2 separate regions of the Homo sapiens genome follow, and region 2 is linked to region 1. A link means that fine-mapping ties the variant in region 1 to the expression of a gene that starts in the linked region. Tissue or cell type: blood mononuclear cells. Region 1 holds a variant in brackets; the other region holds the start of a gene. All regions are shown on one strand. Distances are between the middles of the regions.

Region 1 (4,248 bases):
ATGTACCATAGCTACAAAAGGAAAATGATATGATGTGATTTTATATATATATATAAAACTTATTTTTAAATGACACAAAGACAACATTCTGTGATATTTATTTTCAACTTTTCTTAGTTGTTATTGTTATAATAACTCCAGACTATCAAAAAGAGACTAACTGTTGCTTTGTGCGCTCCCAAAGGGGTGATAAGTAAAATCACTTTCACTCAGCCAGACATGTGAAAGTGCTGTCCTAAAAGGTCCTATAAAAATTTGACCATTTTTTCATATGTAGTTATAACATGATATAATGAAATGAGAGATAAATTGGGGTCCAAAATACCGAGGTTTCTGCCAAAAGCTCTCTAATAAACATGTGTTTATGAGAACATTTGCTATGTTTCCCTACAAGTAAGTGAAGGGAGTTGGTTAAGATCCCTTAAACTTTTATAATTTCAAAGCATTGCTCCACGGAATTGCCCACCCATCATGCCCACTAGAAGATCTAAAACACACCTCAAGCTTACTGTGTCCAAAACAAATATTTAAAGACTACTCCACTCACGGAATTCCCCAGATCAGTAAATAGAAATTCCATCTTGTATTTGCTCAACTTCAATCCCATGATGTCACCCTTGACTCTTCTCTTTCCTTTCATGCCCCCCATCCAATCCATCAGAACATTCTGCCATCTCTACTTTAAACATATGTCCAGCCTCTCATCCTGATTTTCCACCACCATTACTATGGTAGACCGAGCCACCATCATCTTTACCTGAAAATTAGTGCGATAACCACTTAAGTTAGCTCCTGGCTGGCTTTCTCTGCCCAGCCCCCACACCCTCTTTCTTCTCAAGGCAGCTAGAGTGATGCTTCTACAATGTAGGTCAGGTCATGTGCTACTTTAAACTTGGAGATTAGACAGACTTTAAGATAAAGTCTCACTTTATGTCAAAGCCAAGATCTGTGGAAGGATTACAAACCTGATAATGATCGCTGTCCTTCTTCACCCAACCTAATCCTTTCTGACCTCATTTTTCCCACAGTGGCTCACTTCTCTCTAGACTTGCAGGACACCTTCTGCGTGGACCATTCTATCCCCAGATGCCCACTTGGCCCCTCCCTTCTCTAAGGTCTGTGCTGTACAAGAGTTGCTAAGACAATTCCCTGACCTCCTATATAACAGCAACCTGCACCTCATTGTATACTTTCTTACCCCTTTACTGTGCTTTAATTTTTCTACTTAGTACTTATCACCATGACAGCAGAGACGCCTTTGTTCACTACCTTATCCTCAGAATCTAGAACAAATTTAGTTGAATGAATGATTGACTGAATGAAAATATTAGGTTGGTGCAACAGTAATTGTGGTTTTGCCTTTAAAAGTAATGCAATTACTGTTGCGCCAATTTAATATTTCTTAGGGAAGTTGTGATGTAGCTTTTTTAAAATTTCTACTTTTAAAAGTAGATAAATAAGTTAAATAAATAAACATCTATTTTGCCCTTTAAGATAGCTAATAGGCCAGTTTGAACTAACATATTTCCTTGGTTGTTGAGAAACTATAAAAACAGAATATTTCCTGTGTTCTCAGTGTTACTGCAGTTTGTTTTCAAAAAAGTAACAGTGTTCTTAGCATCAAAGCACACAGTTTGGTTTTATGTTACCTTTTGACAGGAAAAAATGGGAAAAAAAGTCAGAAGGATTATTAGTTACTTGATCAATTTTATAGCCTATTGTCATATTTCTCTTTTTCTAAATGCACTGTTGCTACACATACTAAAACCATTTTATGTATATGAAGTATCATACATTCCGTTATCTTAACTTTTCACTTTACCTGAAAGCCTGACTCATTGCAAATGAATGGTGAAGAATTTCTAGACCAAGATGAGCTGCTCTGGTTTATTTCCACCTTAACTTGCTGTGTGGCCTTGAAGAAGTTATGTGGCTTTAGCAAATTAGGGCCCTTATCTTTAAAATAATCGTAATAATAGGTATAATAATACCACTCTCTCACCTACCTAACTGAGTTGTTAAGGTTAATAAGATAATGGCTGTTTAGAATTTTTTGAAGTCCTTCGAAGGAAGGTGTTATTATTTGAAAAGGGAAGTCTTACATTTTTCTGATATTTATAATTATTTTGGAGAAGTGCTCCACCCAGATATTTTGGCATAGCTTCCCTTACAGGTTCCTGGAGGCATGTTTGCCTTCCTTAGACAACTATTTTGAGGTACAACTTCAGGTACTCTACATTCTGGCGGAACTAATCTCCACGAGCTACCAGCTTTGCACATGCGTTCTGCAGTATAGCTGTTAAAAAGTAACACACGGTGGCCTGACACATTTCTGGTCCCTATTATGTAAGATACACATTTGCCAAACTTCCATTTTCTATTACAGTAAGTTGAAACTTTAGAAGTACCTGTCCAAGGTAAACTTAGTTTCTTAAGAAGTTATATTCCATCCTCCATATGATTTCATTTAGTCAAGATAATGTCTCAGAAGTGGATATCTTTAAGAATCTAAGAGGATTTCCCCTTCCCTTGCCTTTAAAAAAAATCATTTCATTTTGCAGCCTGGAGCCTAGATTTGATTAAT[C/T]GATTTCCCTGTTCTATTTAAGGATTGTTTTTATTAATGCACTTTTCAAGCTGAGACACAGCATTATCGCCTTCTCCATCATTGTACTAAGTGTTGAGATCTGAGCAGGCCAGCTGTAGCAGCTGTGTTTCCCCTTGGATCTGAAAGCTAAAAACTTTCATCTCCTTTGCTGTCTCAGCTGCTAGTCTGAGGCTATGGCCTTCCCATAACTCAAACCAGTTTCAAAGCAACGTAAGTAACCTCTTTGGAATGCTTTTGGAAAACCACAGAAAGGTTCTTTAAAAGTACACCACTTATATACTTTAAATGAATGTTTCCATTTTAAGGTAATAACAGCATAATGTCAGGAGTCAACAGATGATATTTAACTACACTTGGACATAGTGTAGACATGTCTATATAGACCAATTATAAAAAAGAAAAGAAACACCAGAATCTTGTGTTGGTATCCTCAAAATGATCTGATAGTGGTGGAATGTCTGAATCAAATATTATATTTTCAAATATTCTATTTATAAAGTGATATTTTCAATAGGCTTAAATGCTTTTTTCTGATACAAAATAAAATGTGAAAAGATGCCATCGTGAAAAATAAAGATGATATTGATTATCTTTACTGGTGAGAAGGCTTGAACTCACAGGGAAATGTCTAAGAGTGGACTTTGGTTTACTTGGGGTTTGGGGAGGATTTGCATCCATTTTAATTGCAATTAAATTATCAGTAAAATAAAAACATGGCTGCTGATTTATAAGACTGTAAGTCATTTGAGTAAAATTTGACATTTACCTCCAAGAATACCTCTGGACAAGAAGAACAGCCTTTGTTTTTTATATTTGTCTTGGCTTCATGAAGGAAATTACCACTGGAACTTCACTTGTACTGACTATGTGGTGACTTAACTAAAACTCCATGTTGCAGTTTTGTTTGTAATTACAAAAAAGATTACACATTAGATTTTACATTTATATCTTTCTTACCATCTCCCTAGTGTTTAGTGGCGAGAAGCCTCATCCTAGGGCAATTGGCAGAGGAAAAAAAAAATCTTTGGGGCTAATTTCTATGTGTACTTGAAATGTTATATAAAAATAAACCAGGTTTCAATGTTTCAGAGTCTCCAAGGGCCACCTTTACAAACCAGCGAAGTAGGGAACACTACCAGAGTACAGGAAGAATAATTTATTAGTCTGAAGAATTCTGAACACATTGTTTTTAAAAATGATTTACTGCATGGATTTCAAAGCTTTTCTTCATAATCACGTGTATTACCTTATCTGAAAAGGCAGTTTATTGCACTTTTCCAGAGCAACTGCTTGTGCTACTGGGGGATTAAAACAGGTAGACATGCTACCACTTTCCCCTCCGGGGGTTCCCCAGACATGATGGGCATTAGGCTTAGCTTCTAGTGACCTATTCTTGAACCTGTGCCATTCAAAGACAGCATTTGCTTGTGTATTATTTAGAGGGGCCTTTTAAAAAATTCTGTATGCTTTATGAAAATATTTTCTATAATTTATTCAATTTCTTTCCAGTAAATATTTTTCTTTTCATTAGGAAATATATGTGTGTCTGTATAAACACACACGTAGATATCACACACTAAAGTGTATACATATAAAATACAAGAGAAATATACTGTAAGCTACAAATATGAGCCACATGTGTA
Region 2 (4,248 bases), 920 kb before region 1:
TTTCTTACTATATGAAATAATAGCTTTTCTTTTCTTTTACAGATTAAAAAAAAGTCCTTTATACCCTTATACTGAATATTGCAACACTTTGGTATTTTCATTTTAACTCTATTGTAAATGGAGAAATTATTAACCTGAAGTAAAGTGATTGAAGTAACCCTGAATAAAAGTTATTCAAAAGCTATTTCAGTGACACAATAGCAATGGATATATACAGCAAATTGACTCTGATACAATGCCAATGATCACATCTTTTCACTCTGAATTAGTGATCATGGATATTTTTAAAAATATGTGTTTGGTGCAAACTTTGCAAATACACATAAAAATACTGGATTTTCTAATCCCTGAAAGAAACTCTCTTCTTTCACCTCTCAGTCGTGTAAGAGTTAACTCTGTTTCCTACAAGGATGCAATCTGTAAGTTAGGTCTGGAAGGCAGCAAAGGCAACCTGGACTTGAAGTTAACACTTCTGTTGTCAAGGGTTACTGATTGGGGGAAGGGAAGGGGCTGTAAAGGGAAAGAGTTACGGAAATGAAGAGGGATTGTAGCACACACTACATAAATTCAAATGCTTTACATGTATTTGGAATAAGATCTCGAGTCTGTTGTATTTTTGCATTGTGTTTTCATTTATTTAGTTTACACATAGGTAGTGAATTTATAGGTTGGTTGATGTTAACCTTATCCAGAGTGGCCCTTTCCAACAATGTTCATTCAGTTGTACATTACATATATGTAATAATTTTGTAATTAAATTGGAATTTATCACAATTATTTACATCAAAGACAATAAAATTATGTTACTTCCTAAATTATAATATCAGTAAATATCGTATCTAGGATTTTGTGGAAAGTCTATGTCATTTTAGTTTAAATAAGGATTTCTCTTTTCCTCCACAAAATTAAAGGTCAAAGAAAACAGCATGTTTAAGACTTCAAATTAATATATATTAAGATTCAGCATTTAATATTCTAATTCTTAAAATAACTGGCTTTACCGATGATGAACTAAAGTGATTTTGCACACTATTACAATATTTCAAATTGCTAGTCACCACAGGTCGGCCTCACTTTAAATCTCCTTGTTATGCCAATTTGCATTACTAATGAACTTGCTAAGAGAGAAACTGTAAAAAGATAATGTAGCAATTAATAGTAAATGCTTGACATACTGTGACATTATAATACCTTTATGTTGATTTATATCTTTATGTCAATATTTACAAGGAAAATATTTTTGAATTTCTAATTTTGCGAAGTAAAAATGATGCTGACGCCATTGTCATTGATGGAATTTTTTCTGTAGCATTTGACTAATATAACCCGTGTTTTATAATTGGTAGACTCATATTTTAGCTTCTACTATCTACTACCCATGTAAGGTATTTTATTTGTAGTAGCTATGAATTGTAAATACAATTGGGTGTTGTGTGTACCTACGTGAAGTGCAGAAGTATTTGATTATATAAAATTTCCTGGATTTATATGAGAATAATGCATAATAGAGAGCAAAAGAGGGTTTTCCTGCCAAAAGTGTCTGTGTGAATTTTCCTTCGAAAATGTTCTTTTAAAATCCTTTGTATGATCAAAGCCACTCCACACAGACAATTAAAAGCAGCTATGGAATGATAGATCACATGACAGGAGTTAAATGTAAGGGTTTTTTTTTTTTTTTTTCCTCCCCCCTCGGTTAAACATCGCAGCAGGCATTACAATACCAGAGGTAACGAATCAATTAAATCCATTTTCCCCTCGGCGTCTCCAAAGCTGCGTGCCTAGTGTTGCTGTGTAGTTTAGACCGGAGCAGTAGGACCCAGGGGCCTCCGCAGCCACCAATAGAAGCGCACACTTGGACCTATTTGTATGCAATGCCTTCTGCTCTGCGCATTAATAGTAATACAGATAACGGGTTTGAAAGAATTCTCTACTGAAGAAGGATTGAATTTTTCCAGGGTGCTGATACAGAGAAGAAACCCGACTTCACTCTCTCCCTATTTCCCCACTCTTAGGTTTAAAAGTCTGTCACCTTTCGCTTGGTTTAAACTCGGAAAGGTCTCAGTGCACAGCAAAGTTGCAGGGCTGCGTCTGCACTACGGAGCCTCTAGATTGCTGAAAACAGTCTTATGGAAGGGTAAGTCTCGGAAATGGTTGCAAGGGAAGTGACAGCTGGCTTTTGATTTGTAAAAGGGGACACGCTGGGTTTTACACTAGTGGTTGTTGGAGTGCAGAATGGTTGCCGAGAGGACTCTGCAGTTTATCCAGAAATTGTGGCTGATGCGCCAGGGTGTTTTGGGGTAGAATCAAAAACCTTCAGGCTAAATCGGAAATTGCAGCCTTGCGATCGGGAGGGATTCAACAAGTTTTCCTGCAGGGATGCGATGTTTGTTTCTTCCTTGCCAGTTGTGCAGAGTGTCCGTTCCAGGTAGGCTGCGGCTGCTTAACAAAGAAGTTTTGGAATTTGTTTGTTGTGTGTGTGGCTGGGCTAACCCTTGTTGGAGTAGGTTTCGTGCCGCTTTTGGCTTCTTGGGGGCACACAGCGGAATTTGCTCTAGGGATGCGGCGAGCATCAGCGGTGTAGTGGGCTGGGGCCGGGCAACTTTGCAGCCTAATCTCAGTGCCGCTGACCGCACCGTTGTTCGTGATGTGAGCTGACTGAGGCATAGACACGGGCAGGCTGCAGGGAGCTTCCAAACTTTGAAAGCATTCTCCAGGAATGGATGCGCGTGGGGGCTTTGAAAATAAGCGTTACTAGGTGGATTTTGGTAAACTCTTGGCGGTATGTAGGCAGTGGGGACTTTTGACACTTGCATTTCCAACCTGCAGGATTTTGCTTGAAAACATGGTGCTGATGTGAAGACGAGAGCTTAAAGCTAAGCCAGCGGGGACTTTGAGGGAGGAAATGAGGGAGGGAAGGAGGAAGAATGAGAGAAGACAGATGAATGAAAAAGGTGCGTCCCATCTTTCACACACAAAAACCACACGAGTGGGACGAACCAGGAAGCGCTCCAGTTGGTGGCGTTTAGCTGGAAAACGTATTGCAGGGAGGTCCAGGAGCCTCTGCATTATTGATGAAACGCCGTGCCCTTCTGGGGCCCCTTCTTGCTCCTTCTCCCTGCCCCATCTTGCCAGCCCCGCTTCCATGAGCCTTCGGTTCCAGCGTTGGCGCGGGTGCGGCTGCGCGCGCGGCTGGGTCCCACAGCTCTGAGAACACAATGGGGAGAAGCAGGCGAGCCCTGCGGGCGGCCGATGCGGAAAACTCGGCGTGGCAACCCCACTGCTGCAGCCTGGGCTGCCGCTCCACCCGGGGCAGCGGCGCTGCAGAGACGGCTTCTGCCCAGTTGCCACGCGCCCTGAGGTCTCGGAGGACCGCGTGGAGGGCGCTCACACCTGGCCGCTAAAATCCTGGGATACCCTTCTAGGAGTCACTGTGTCCCACGCAGATGGGTGGGGTGGGGGAGACGGAATGCTAAGACATCCCACTCCTGCCTCGAGTCGGAGCTCCCACTACTCAAATATCCTTAGTGTGCACCCCAAGCATCTAGAGGACCTGCGCCCCCAAGAAAAAAGGACACGAAGGGGGAAAGAAGGGAAATGTTGATGAGGCTGCAAGAGGGGAAGGAAAACAAGCAATTTAGGGCAATTATGGTCAATGGTCAGGCTTTTCTGGGCTCTTTTAAGTGGATTGATTTAGAGGAGCTTTGAAATGCTGTCCCTGGCCTGTCTGCGGCACTAAAGGGGGCAGATTTCCAGACGCAGGAACTCACTGGAGGCTCCTTCTATAGATGAAGGGAGGAAAGGGCAGGGCAGGAGGCTCATTTCACAGGGTAGTTTAACCCTGACCTCAGCACCTCCCACCCTTTCACGCCCCGCCAAGGAGTGCCCCGACCTTGTAAACTCCTCTGTGTCATCTGCCCTGTGTAAGTGATTTTCATCAAGCTGTGTGTTACAGAGGCCTGTTAAGAGATGGTTGTCTGTTTCCAAGTAGTGGTGGGAGGTTGTTTAATTTGGAGGTTGCTTGTCAACCCGGGCTGAGCGCACAGAGGAAGGAGCGTAGATGCAGGACCCTATAGAATGGGCCACTTGGGGTTGTCAGTTACTTGAAGGCTACACATCAAAGGAAATATACTGATTGAGCACCTGGGGGAAGACAATGCCATTTCATTTTTTCCTCGCTTTCCATGTGCCTCCTTTACTGTGGTTGTTTGGGAACTAGGATATAATAATTACAAAAAAAAGTTGAAAATC

The links. PIP is the estimated chance that this variant, and not a neighbour inherited with it, causes the effect.
Region 2: ROBO1 starts here. The variant in region 1 is fine-mapped to the expression of ROBO1 in blood mononuclear cells (TOPMed, PIP 0.96).

What each region holds. Positions count from the first base shown.
Region 1 is chr3:78,845,422-78,849,669 of GRCh38, reverse strand. The region is part of intron 4 of ROBO1 (roundabout guidance receptor 1); the gene reads left to right. Among named protein-coding and RNA genes, the nearest start is that of MIR3923, 660 kb to the left of the region's middle. RefSeq lists a silencer at 2,517-2,811. The variant C/T (reference allele first, on the strand shown) is at 2,585.
Region 2 is chr3:79,765,638-79,769,885 of GRCh38, reverse strand. It overlaps ROBO1 (roundabout guidance receptor 1), which reads left to right and starts at 1,888. Exons shown (of 31, transcript NM_002941.4): 1 at 1,888-2,134.